3 linked regions of the Homo sapiens genome follow. The protein of the gene in region 1 purifies or fractionates together with the protein of each later gene. This does not show direct contact. Each region holds a gene or a part of one and is shown in the gene's direction. Other genes may lie near its edges. The genes, in order: CCNO, PRRC2B and SATB1.

Evidence for each region.
Region 2: the proteins of CCNO (region 1) and PRRC2B purify together in Homo sapiens (affinity purification with mass spectrometry; one large-scale study listed by BioGRID and IntAct). This does not show direct contact.
Region 3: the proteins of CCNO (region 1) and SATB1 purify together in Homo sapiens (affinity purification with mass spectrometry; one large-scale study listed by BioGRID and IntAct). This does not show direct contact.

What each region holds. Positions count from the first base shown.
Region 1 is NC_000005.10:55,231,406-55,235,154, reverse strand, and holds the start of CCNO (cyclin-O), read left to right. Parts: upstream 1-1,546; 5' UTR 1,547-1,631; coding exon 1,632-2,012; exon of another isoform or gene 2,013-2,608; coding exon 2,609-2,794; intron 2,795-3,294; coding exon 3,295-3,749. UniProt on the Homo sapiens protein: Specifically required for generation of multiciliated cells, possibly by promoting a cell cycle state compatible with centriole amplification and maturation.
Region 2 is NC_000009.12:131,477,496-131,481,144, forward strand, and holds part of PRRC2B (protein PRRC2B), read left to right. Parts: intron 1-248; coding exon 249-454; intron 455-978; coding exon 979-1,124; intron 1,125-1,756; coding exon 1,757-1,898; intron 1,899-3,649.
Region 3 is NC_000003.12:18,345,191-18,348,839, reverse strand, and holds the end of SATB1 (DNA-binding protein SATB1), read left to right. Parts: 3' UTR 1-3,463; downstream 3,464-3,649. UniProt on the Homo sapiens protein: Crucial silencing factor contributing to the initiation of X inactivation mediated by Xist RNA that occurs during embryogenesis and in lymphoma.

The sequences.
Region 1 (3,749 bases):
TCTCAAACTCCTGACCTCATGTGATCCACCTGCCCTGGCCTTCCAAAGTGCTGGGATTACAGTCGTGAGCCACCACGCCCGGCCCAAATGACATTATTTAGGGCAGAATAGAGAGCTTGCTCAGAGTTATGGGGAAATAGGAGGAACAGTGGTCAGAACCCAAAATCCATTCCTTTTCTTTCACCTGCATCTCTAGGAGACACCATCCCACCATCTACTAAATTTTCATAGACAGAAACTTGTACTTTGAGCAGACACATTTATCAGCTTTCTTCTGGAATGAGGTTAGGTGGCTGAACCTGCTCTTGGTTTGGCACCCAGTAGCCTCGCCTCTGGAAAACACCAGGGTTGAGGGTACCTGAGCTTTCTGCCGTTGCTAAGTGCCTGTGAGGTTGATTATGGGCTACTTGTGCTCCTGCAGCCCCTTCTCCTATAGGGTCAGAGACCCTCAGGAAGATTCACTCAGGCCACAGAAGGGCTCCAGCTTCTACCAGGACGGGAGTCTGTGGACTAAACCCGAGGCGCCTTGAGGAAACTGCCACGCCCGGTCGGCCTGGGCGTCCCCATTCCAGCTTTAATTTCCCTGAGTTTATCACCCTGAAGGAGCGGACGCAGGAAGCAGGGAAAAACCAAGGACTGGGCTGCCGGCGGGGCAGAAGGCCAGAAGCTAATGACCTAAAACGGAACAGGCTGTGAGCAATTCGATCAAACTCGAAATGCAACTTTCCAACAATGTTCTTAAACCGCTGTAGCCCCAGCTTGCTTGGCTTGGGGTGAAAAGTGTGGGAGAAAGTCTTCACGGCCTGCAGACTTGCTTGCCGACTGAGGTTGATCCGGCAGTTTTCCGTTTTGTTTTGAGCGCGAAAGCGTGGCTGGCTGGTGGAGCTCCAATCTATTCCGCAGCACAAACGGCCCTTCTGAGGCTCTGCTCCCCGAGGCTGGCGGAAGGAAGGGCACTGGCTACTCCGGTACCCACCGAAACAAAACCGACAAACGCAACCGAATTAACACTATTGCTTGTTTGGGTCACTGAAGAAAACTTTTCCCGTGTCGACAGAATTCTAGCCCGACTTTCGTTTGGAACTCAGGATCAGACCTTTACAAAATTACCGACCTGGGTTAGAGGTGCCCGCACGTGTCGAGACCATCTGGCCAAGGACAGAGAGATGCCCCCTGGGAGAATGTTTTAACCGGCGCAGCGGAGCCGCTTGGCTGCGCCCGCCGCAGCCCTACTCCCACTCCGTGCACCGGGCTCCGCAGTGACCCGGGCTCCGCAGTGACCCGGGCTCCCGCAGCGACCCGGGCTCCGGTTGCCCAGGTAACGCAGGACGCAGGCGCGAAAGGCGGGTGCCTGGCGCGCGCTGCAGCTCCCCCTCCCCCCGGCGGGCCGCGGAGGCGACGCGCTGCCTGCGCCCTGAGGCGAGTGGTTCTCCAGCCGGAAAATCGCGGCTCCGGTGCCGCTCTGGGCTCAGCCAGTGAGAGGCCGGGGGTGTGGTAGAGAGAAGGAGCCGGCCGGGTACTTAGGACCGCGCCAGCCTCTGAGCCCGGCCTCCTTCGCACTTTCGAGTGCGCGTTTGCTGCCCGCCGCAGCCCGGGCGTTGAAGGTAGTAAAGCGGCCACCCGGCCGCATCATGGTGACCCCCTGTCCCACCAGCCCCTCGAGCCCCGCCGCCCGAGCGGGGAGGCGGGACAACGACCAGAACCTTCGCGCCCCGGTGAAGAAGAGCAGGCGTCCGCGCCTCCGGAGGAAGCAGCCGCTGCATCCCCTGAACCCGTGCCCGCTCCCGGGAGACTCCGGCATTTGCGACCTGTTCGAGTCCCCCAGCTCCGGCTCAGACGGCGCAGAGAGCCCCTCTGCGGCGCGGGGTGGTAGCCCCCTGCCCGGCCCGGCCCAGCCCGTGGCGCAGCTAGATCTACAGACCTTCCGCGACTACGGCCAGAGCTGCTACGCCTTCCGCAAGGCGCAGGAGAGCCACTTCCACCCGCGGGAGGCGCTGGCACGGCAGCCACAAGTGAGGTGCTGGTAGAGCCAGCTCCACGCCGCCGCTCTTCCTCTCCTCCCAGGCTCTCTCCTCTCCTGCCGGCTCGGCCCTCCGAGCGCCCGGGCCCGCGACAGCCCAGGTCCCGCCCCGAGTCGAAGCACAAGGGGCCGTGGAGGGGCGTCACCGGCCTCATTTTACAGATGGAGAAAAGTGGGGCGTAGACGGCTTGAGGGACTTGCCCCGTCCCAAGCTGGCTACTGGGGCACGGTAGAGAGGAATTCGTTTCCGGGTTGAGTCTGGACTCCTACCGAACTCGGGCAAGTTATTTAACACCCCTGAGCTTCTTTCTTCATCTGCAAAATGGAACCCCTCCCCTTCCTTTGAATTGCTGAGCCCATTACGCGAGGTAACGTGTACGACGCTCTCTGCACAGCGCCAGGTCCCAATCCCGGTGTTCCGGCTCAGCACGGCCCACGCGTTTCCCAGTTTCCATTGCGTTTCTCTTTCTGAAATCTTCTTGCCCCTCTCCTGGGAAGCTCCCCGATTCTTCTTGGCCCTTCCTTCCCTTCCACAGTCCCTCTCCACCCTAAGCCCAGCGGGCCCGCCTCCCCCCTCCTTCCCGGCAGGTGACGGCGGAATCCCGCTGTAAGCTGCTCAGCTGGCTGATCCCGGTGCACCGCCAATTCGGCCTCTCCTTCGAGTCGCTGTGCCTGACGGTGAACACTCTGGACCGCTTCCTCACCACCACGCCGGTGGCTGCAGACTGCTTCCAGCTGCTTGGGGTCACCTCCTTGCTCATCGCTTGCAAACAGGTACCTGGGGTATCAAACAGGTACACGCGGCATCTGGGGACGCAGCCAAACTCCCCCGCCACTCCCTGGCCGCCCGTCTTTCCAGCGCGCACGATTCAGTGCTGGGTTCCCAGAACTCATTTTATCAGACATTTGCATACGCATATATCCCTTAGCCTTAACTTCACAATTTCTCCACAAACGAAAAATCCTGTCACTCGGCTTCCAAAGAAATAGCCTAATAGACTAATAGCTGTAATCAGTCCCAAATAGCTCTTTTGGCACCTCTAGTCTAGCCTCCGAAAAAGCCTTCAAAATTTCCCAAGCTTTTTTTTTTTAGTTGGACAGTAGTTAGATCAACTGCGCTGGAAGTACGCTCTAGGTCACTTACGTGGAAGCAGTGGAGAGGCAGAGCCCCGGCTGTCTCTCTGGAAGGGATGGGGAAAGTCCGGGCGTCATACTGGGGTGGGCCTGGGGCCCGGGAAGCCGCAAAGCGGGGTTGAGTGCGCCCTGTGTTGCAGGTGGAGGTGCACCCGCCGCGCGTGAAGCAGCTTCTGGCCCTCTGCTGCGGCGCCTTCTCCCGGCAGCAGCTCTGCAACCTCGAGTGCATCGTGCTGCACAAGCTGCACTTCACCCTGGGTGCGCCCACCATTAGCTTCTTCCTGGAGCATTTCACGCACGCTCGCGTGGAGGCGGGGCAGGCTGAGGCCTCCGAAGCTCTGGAAGCGCAAGCCCTGGCGCGGGGGGTGGCAGAGCTGAGTCTGGCCGACTATGCCTTCACCAGCTACTCCCCTTCCCTCCTGGCGATCTGCTGCCTGGCGCTGGCGGACCGCATGCTGCGGGTCTCGCGGCCCGTGGACTTGCGACTGGGAGACCACCCGGAGGCGGCGCTGGAGGACTGTATGGGCAAGTTGCAGCTGCTGGTGGCCATAAACAGTACTTCCTTGACTCACATGCTGCCCGTTCAGATCTGCGA
Region 2 (3,649 bases), on another chromosome or scaffold:
CATGTGGGAGAGCCCTGGGGAGCCACTTTCCCCAGGAGCAGGCAGAGCCGGTGGGGGCAGCCTTACACGTATGTTTGCACACGGACATGGATGCACTGTGGCCAGCCTGCCGCTCCTCCCCACCCGAGGAGTCAGCTAGAGGAAGTGGGCCTAGATCAGGGTGCCGGGCTTGTGTGCAGGCTGTGTGCACGTGCGGTGTTTTCCCTCCTTCCCCAGCTCTGGTTAACAAGATCCTCTTTCCCTTACAGATCCCCAGACGAGGCCTTGCCTGGAGGTCTTAGTGGCTGCAGCAGTGGGAGTGGCCACTCCCCCTATGCCCTGGAGCGGGCAGCCCATGCCAGTGCTGACCTTCCCGAAGCCTCCAGTAAAAAGGCAGAGAAGGAGGCCAAGTTGGCTGCTCCGAGGGCAGGTGAACAGGGAGAGGCCATGAAACAGTTTGACCTGAACTATGGAAGTAAGTCATCCTCATATCTTCAGGGGAAAGAACTCAGGCAGAACCAGGGGCCATGCAGTCCTCGGGCCTCCCGAGTTTGCCCTTGCACTGAGTACCTTAGCTTTCGGAACAGCTCGGCCAGGCCCTGGGCTGGGTTCTGGGGCTGTAGAGGTGAGCAGAGTAGGTAGGATTCCCACCGAGTGTTGCTCACAGCCCGTTGAATCCCCGTGACACCCTGCAGCTTCCGGGCTTTAAAGAGAGGAAGCCTGGGGCCCAGAGACGTTCGGTGGTGTGTCCGAGGTCACACACAGCTGTAGGAGCAGAGCTGGGGTTTAAGCTCTTTGCGTGTTCTCTCAGTTGTGCCCTTGGGCCTCTTTGGTTTGGGGTAACAATGTGTTAGATCAGAGGCGGCCTGAGAAAAGTGCGGAAGTCCTGTCCAGGTTTCTGTCGAGCCTGATGCTAGATCTCAGGCGCCTGTTGAATTGGGTTGTTCTTGTCTCCTGGTGAGTGGAAAGACTGTTCCTTCTCGTGAAATCTTGGTTCAGGTGCCATCATTGAAAATTGCGGGTCCAGCCCCGGGGAGGAGAGTGAGGTGGGTTCTATGGTGGGCGAAGGCTTCATCGAAGTCCTGACCAAGAAGCAGCGCCGCCTGCTGGAGGAAGAGAGAAGAAAGAAGGAGCAGGCCGTGCAGGTGAGGGGCGGAGGGTGGGGGGGCATGGGGCTGGAGGGCAGGCTGGCAGATGCCCAGGAAACCCAGAGCCAGAGGGTAAGGGAGTTCTCGGTCAAGCTCAAGGTGGCAGAGAGGAAGAAAGGAGTATTTAGCAAGCACACATTGTCTCCCCGTTCCTGCTATTACCAAGGCCCTTCTATCAATGTAGGAATAGGTGGTGGCATCACTGTTATGCAGTGGAAGAAACCGAGTCTTGAAGAGGGTGACTTCTCTAGGGTGATAACAGTGGAAACTTGTCCAAGGCAAGATGCAGACCTCCGTCACCTCCCAGCTTCTCCTTCCTCCCCACTCCTCATTCCTGAGTGGAATGAGATTTGTCTCCCTCAAGTCAAGTGGATCGTGAACGCTATACTAAAATGGAGTCAGGGCTGGACCTGCACACAGATTACAGTCCGTTGGCCTTTCAGGTCTTTCTTGGGGGGTGCTTTGCTTGGCATCGCAGTTCTGCTTGAGGTTTTGGGAGACGAGCGTTCCACACATCTCTGGAGCATTTTCAGGTGGTGTGATTTTTGGTACCTGGGATACTTATCCTGGGGAGAATTTGTCAGTCTTGGTGCCTTTGGCTAGACTACAGCATCCTTTCTTCCCCTCAGGTGCCTGTCAAAGGTCGAGGCCTTTCCTCCCGTATTCCTCCTCGATTTGCAAAAAAGCAGAACAACTTATGTCTGGAGCAAGGTGACGTGACCGTGCCTGGCAGCAGCCTGGGCACTGAGATCTGGGAGAGCAGCAGCCAGGGTGAGAGTTGGGGGTGTGACCCCAGCTGTGGCACCCAAGGTCACATCACACACTGGGTTTGCTTCTGGGGAGGATCCTGCTTTTGAGCTACGAATATAGATGGAATACAGATGGAGTACCTGTTTGCTGTGTTCCGCTGCTGAGCTAGTCGCTGAATGCCGTCTGAGTGATTTGCTGCTGCAACCCCCAAACGGATACACAATTTTCCTTGCCTAAAATTGGTAGAAGAGCAGAGCATTCATTAGTCTGGTGATCTGGAAAAGGATGGCCCCTTGGGCTTAGATCACACAGTAGTGGGAATGGCCTTCTTTGTTGGTCGTCGTTTTCTCCCACTAACTTATGGAAGAGAAGCAAATGACAGATAGACCAGCCGCAAGAGTTCAGGAGCTCTCTTCTGTGCTGTGCACCCTTTTCTTAACATGGGGAAGGCTCTGGAAACCCCTCCCTGAATGCTCTTCTGGAAAGGCAAACTGAGACCAGAAGACGGTATACGTTACTTCTTAGAACATTTGTTGCCCTGAAAACTTTTTTTTTTTAATTCTATATCAAATGTAATTTTTCTGGGAATTTTTCCTTATAAAATAGAAAACTATTTTCATAGAATAGGTTCTTCTTGAGGTTTAGGTGAGGCAGGGCCCTGCGCTGTTAGCCCAGAGCATGCATAGATGAATAAAAACATGGACATTCGATATTTCACAGCTCAGGCCCATGAGGGGAGCTTGGAGAGGTCACCTAGTGCCAGCTCATTTTTCTGCAAAGCAGCTGAAGCTTCTAGAGGGAAGGGACTTGACTCAGGGACTCCAGGGTCATAGGACAAGCACCCGAGACACTGAGTTCTGGGCCTTGATTCTTTCACTGTTTCCACATAGCTTGTCCTCATGTGCTCGGTGAAAACTTTGGTTCTTGCAAACTACAAAATAACATTCAACATGCCCAGCTTTGATGGAAAGGAAGCACAACCATTTGATAAAACATCAATAACACTACATTTGGTAGTGGCTGAGTGACAGGTGTCATAGTATTGGTGTCCAAAAATGCCCAGGTGCCAGATTGGTTGAGCTGCCAGGTGTGAATCAGATGTGACTCTCAGGTGTGAGTCATCATCCCCTTTTGTCAGATCTTTTACTCCAGAATTCTGCAGGGGCTCATTGGTTTCTCAGACCAGGGGTTGTGTCCAAGGGATGGCTTCAGAGAGCCCTTGGATATTAAAATAGCATGTGAAAGGATTTTTTTTTTTTTTAAAGATGGGGTCTCACTATGTTGCCCAGGCTGGACTTGAACCCCTGGGTTCAAGCAATCCTTCTGCCTCAGCCTCCTGAGTAGCTGGGATTGCAGATATGTGCCCCCACCCCCTGCTAGCATGTCAACTTTTGCATGCATATCTATTTTTCTGGGCTCCGGATCCATGGCCATTCAAAAAGTGGTCTGTGAGCTTAAAAATTTTTAGTAATACCCGCTGGGATCTTTCAAAGACTCTGTAGAAGCCACCAACTTTGGCCAGGAGTGGTGGCTCACACCTATAATCCCAGCAGTTTGGGAGGCCAAGGCTTGAAGATCACTTGAGATCAGGAGTTCAAGACCAGCAACAGAGTGAGACCCTGTCTCTATTGTTTAAAAAAAAAAGAAGGCCAGGCCTGGTGGCTCACGTCTGTAATCCCACCACTTTGGGAGGCTGAGGCAGGCAGATCACCAGGTCAGGAGATCGAGACCATCCTGGCTAACATGGTGAAACCCCGTCGCTCCTAAAAATA
Region 3 (3,649 bases), on another chromosome or scaffold:
ACAAGCATTATACCTTCTGTGATTATGATTTCCTCTCCTATAATTATTTCTGTAGCACTCCACACTGATCTTTGGAAACTTGCCCCTTATTTAAAAAAAAAAAAGAAAAAAAAGAGTTTGTTACTCTATTGTATGTTACAAAAGAACTATAGACTGTGGAATGCAGTTTAAAGATGACATATGCCAACAAATGCCTTGTATTATATGGCACTGCCGTAATTCAAATTTGTTTTTATTTTGGAAATAAAAGTTCACTGTACTTTTTTTTCATTCTCATTGTTACATGATTTTTTAAAAAAAGGAAAAGAAAATGTGAAACACAATTTAGTCCTCATTATTTATTTGTAGATCCTGCAGCATCATGTTGTAATTAATTTTTTGGAAGTTTCCGTTAAATGTAATATTGCTTCTCTTGTTACCATACTGATTCTTTTCTATTTATAAATGTATTTTGATGGGCAGTAAAACAAAGTGTCTTAAAAGTTTTAAATAGAGAAAATGTGCTTTACACAGTTGCCTATAAAAAGTGCTCTATGTTATCCAAGCAATTCATACTATAAGCTTCACTCTTATTGTTGTATGCAATTTTTACTATCATGCAAATAAGCTTAGGTAAATAAAACTAATAGATCACCTTAGAAAATTATGCAATTAATGTGAAAATAATTGATGTTTGCAATGTGTCTTCCTTTGGTTTACAATCAATTTTAAAGCTACATCTGTATAAAATTTCTGTATAAAGGTGTATTTCTTTTTTATGAGTTTATGGCTATGAAAACAGCTATTTTGTTACAGCTGGCTGTTTTTATAAGTGTATCACAATTTTCTTTATGCAGAAATGTTCTGACTAGGAGTGGTTATTGACTGTAACTACACAATTAAAATTGTTTGTATCGTATGACATGGTAGGGTTTGTCTGCTTATGTGAAGTAACTAAAGGAGTCAAAGGATGGCCCTCTCATTTAGGTGCATGTTAATAACTTGTTATTTCACTGATTTTAAAAAGAGCAATTGACAAGTTACTTGAAACACTGTAAATTTAAATCACAAACACATGCTCATTTTTAAATAGGTATGAAATTTCACAATGAAAATAACCTGTTTGGTTAACATTTTGCTTAATAAGTAGAGATAGGATGGTCAAAAGACTCTCCGACAAAAACAAATCCAGTCTCTAGCAGTTATGTTGTTAGAATGGATTCATCTGTGCTTATTTCACAATACTTCATTTATAGCAATGCTTTTCCTTAAGCTAATGTATAAATATTTCTAAAGGCCATTAATAGTAACAAAATAAGTAGGGGAAAAAATGGACCTTCTGTATAAAAACCCCTTAGCTTTTTTTTTTCACAAGTTATAAGTGGAATAAGTTAATAACTGAGCTCGTAAGTGTATCTCATAACTATAAGAGCTACATGAAGAAAATAGGAATAACACACCTGGTATTTAAACACAATCTTCAAAATTCTTGCAACATTAAACATAGTAAAATGCCAGAATATAAAATGAGGTGTGCTAATGGTCACAGGATTGAGGCCAGCATTACAGTTTGGGGTGATTTTTCTTTTATTTGCTCCCTCACTTTGTTTCCTAGATGCTAGTAGGGGTATCTGGGTTGCTTGAGATACCATTTTGCAATTGCCCCTTCTCTTTCTGCCTACCATCTTCTCAGGCCCTGATGAGCTTATTGGTAGGCAACTGGGCTGCTTTAGTGTTGAACTTGTACTTTAGAAACTGAAGTGGAATCATTGAAAACTTTCAATAAAGCTTTAAAGTTCCATTTACTTTTGAAGCACAGCTAAGCTCCTCTGAAGGCAGCTGGTTTGTTGCAAACTTAAAATTGTACTGAAAAGTTGCCACTTTTTATTTAGTAAGAAAACAAACATTCTGGCTCACTAGAGTTCAGAAAAGTAATAATTTGAGCCAAAGGAATTTGAATTAAGAAAATAGAAACTAGGTTTCATGTATTTAAAAAATAGGAAATAAAATAGAAACTCAAATGCCATGAAGTTATCTTCCTCTTCCTTATATCCCCTAAGTTTGGGTTGCAAATAACTTTCCAATTCCTAATAACCTAAATTATTTTGAAATAGTGTTTTCAGTGAAATGATGAATGTTTGAATGTTTGTTTGGTAATCAACATAACAATGCTAACAAAATTCCCACTTAGATTTTTTAACTTTTAAAAGTCAGCGTGGTTTTGATAATTTGATATTTTAAATGCCCACACATACACACACACACACACACACACACACACAAGCACATGTTAATAAACTGATAGGATGGAGTGAGCAAAATTGTTTTCAGGGAAGATGGCACATTTTAGAAAAGACTTGCCCAGATGATCTTCCATATTGCTCCCCCAATGTCATTTATCGCTCATGCCAATCCTCCTCTTGTTACCTGTGGCTATGGTAAAATTCCTTTAACAAGCTTCATTGTGTCCAAGTATTTCAGAGACTTTTAAAAGCTGGGCATGACATAGCGTTTTGTGCTGTTAAGACCTTAGCAGAGTCAGGTAGTTTACGGGTAATATTCAACCTTGTGCATCTGAATCTGTCATGGATTCCCTTCACTCAGCACTTTGCCACTAATTTGTATTACACTCTGTGGCCATATAATACTTGCACATTATGCAAAAAAAAATGTTGATAGTATCTCCTTGCCACACAATATGCAGAGTTGACAACCTTTGAAAACCAAGGTAACTAATATGTATGTCCTAGTTGTGTGGCGCTTGGTAACAAAGTCTGTACATATTATGTATAAAATGTGTATTGGTTAGCATTTAGTACTAAGAAATTCTGAGTTTAAAATAAGTGATTTTTTTCAAAGTAGCGATATCTATATCTGTGTTTATCTAAAAATACTGGCTTGAATAGAAAACATTCTCAGATGATTCAAGATTGAGTAAAAATGAGAATCCCATACATTCCATTATTAAATTCTGCCCTATTCCCAATTGTTAGCATCTGGCTGATATTAAGGTCTTTGATTGTCACAATATTCTCAATAAATGAGACATTCTGAACTGCCTGGTGATATTTTCAAAAAGAGCAATTAAAATGTGTATTCCCTCTAATACAGCTGATAGAACTGTTGTGTTAAAGCAAGTTGGAAATTTGCATGATAGTGTGGAAACCAATGGAGGTCCAAAATATTAATCATATCTAAAATATCAGAAAATATCAATACTAGTCTTCTTTATGCATATTTTTGACTTTTTAAGAGGGCTTATGAATTCAATGTTTCTTCTGAGGCAATCCTTTTAATGTAAATACTAAATACTTGCATGTCTTTTGACAAAGGCTAAACTACAATCTATTAATATGCACATTTTTGATAAAATATAAAGTACCCTAATTAAAGAAATTGTGGTAGAAGGTGTATGTCCTGAATACTATACCTGTTTAACAATACCAAATGTTAAATAAAAATAGTTTGAAATTAATGTTTAAAAGATGAGCCACATTTTTAAGACTTTCTTACATTACCCTACTTACAGAGAGCATATATCTCCAAATTTAATTCTATCAAAAGAACACTACCAAAACTCAATTACAGCTTCTTGCCTCGTACCAAGGTTGTGTGGTTACCGTTTCCCAACAATTATTTTCAGCTGCTAATACACTTACTGTGATCAAAA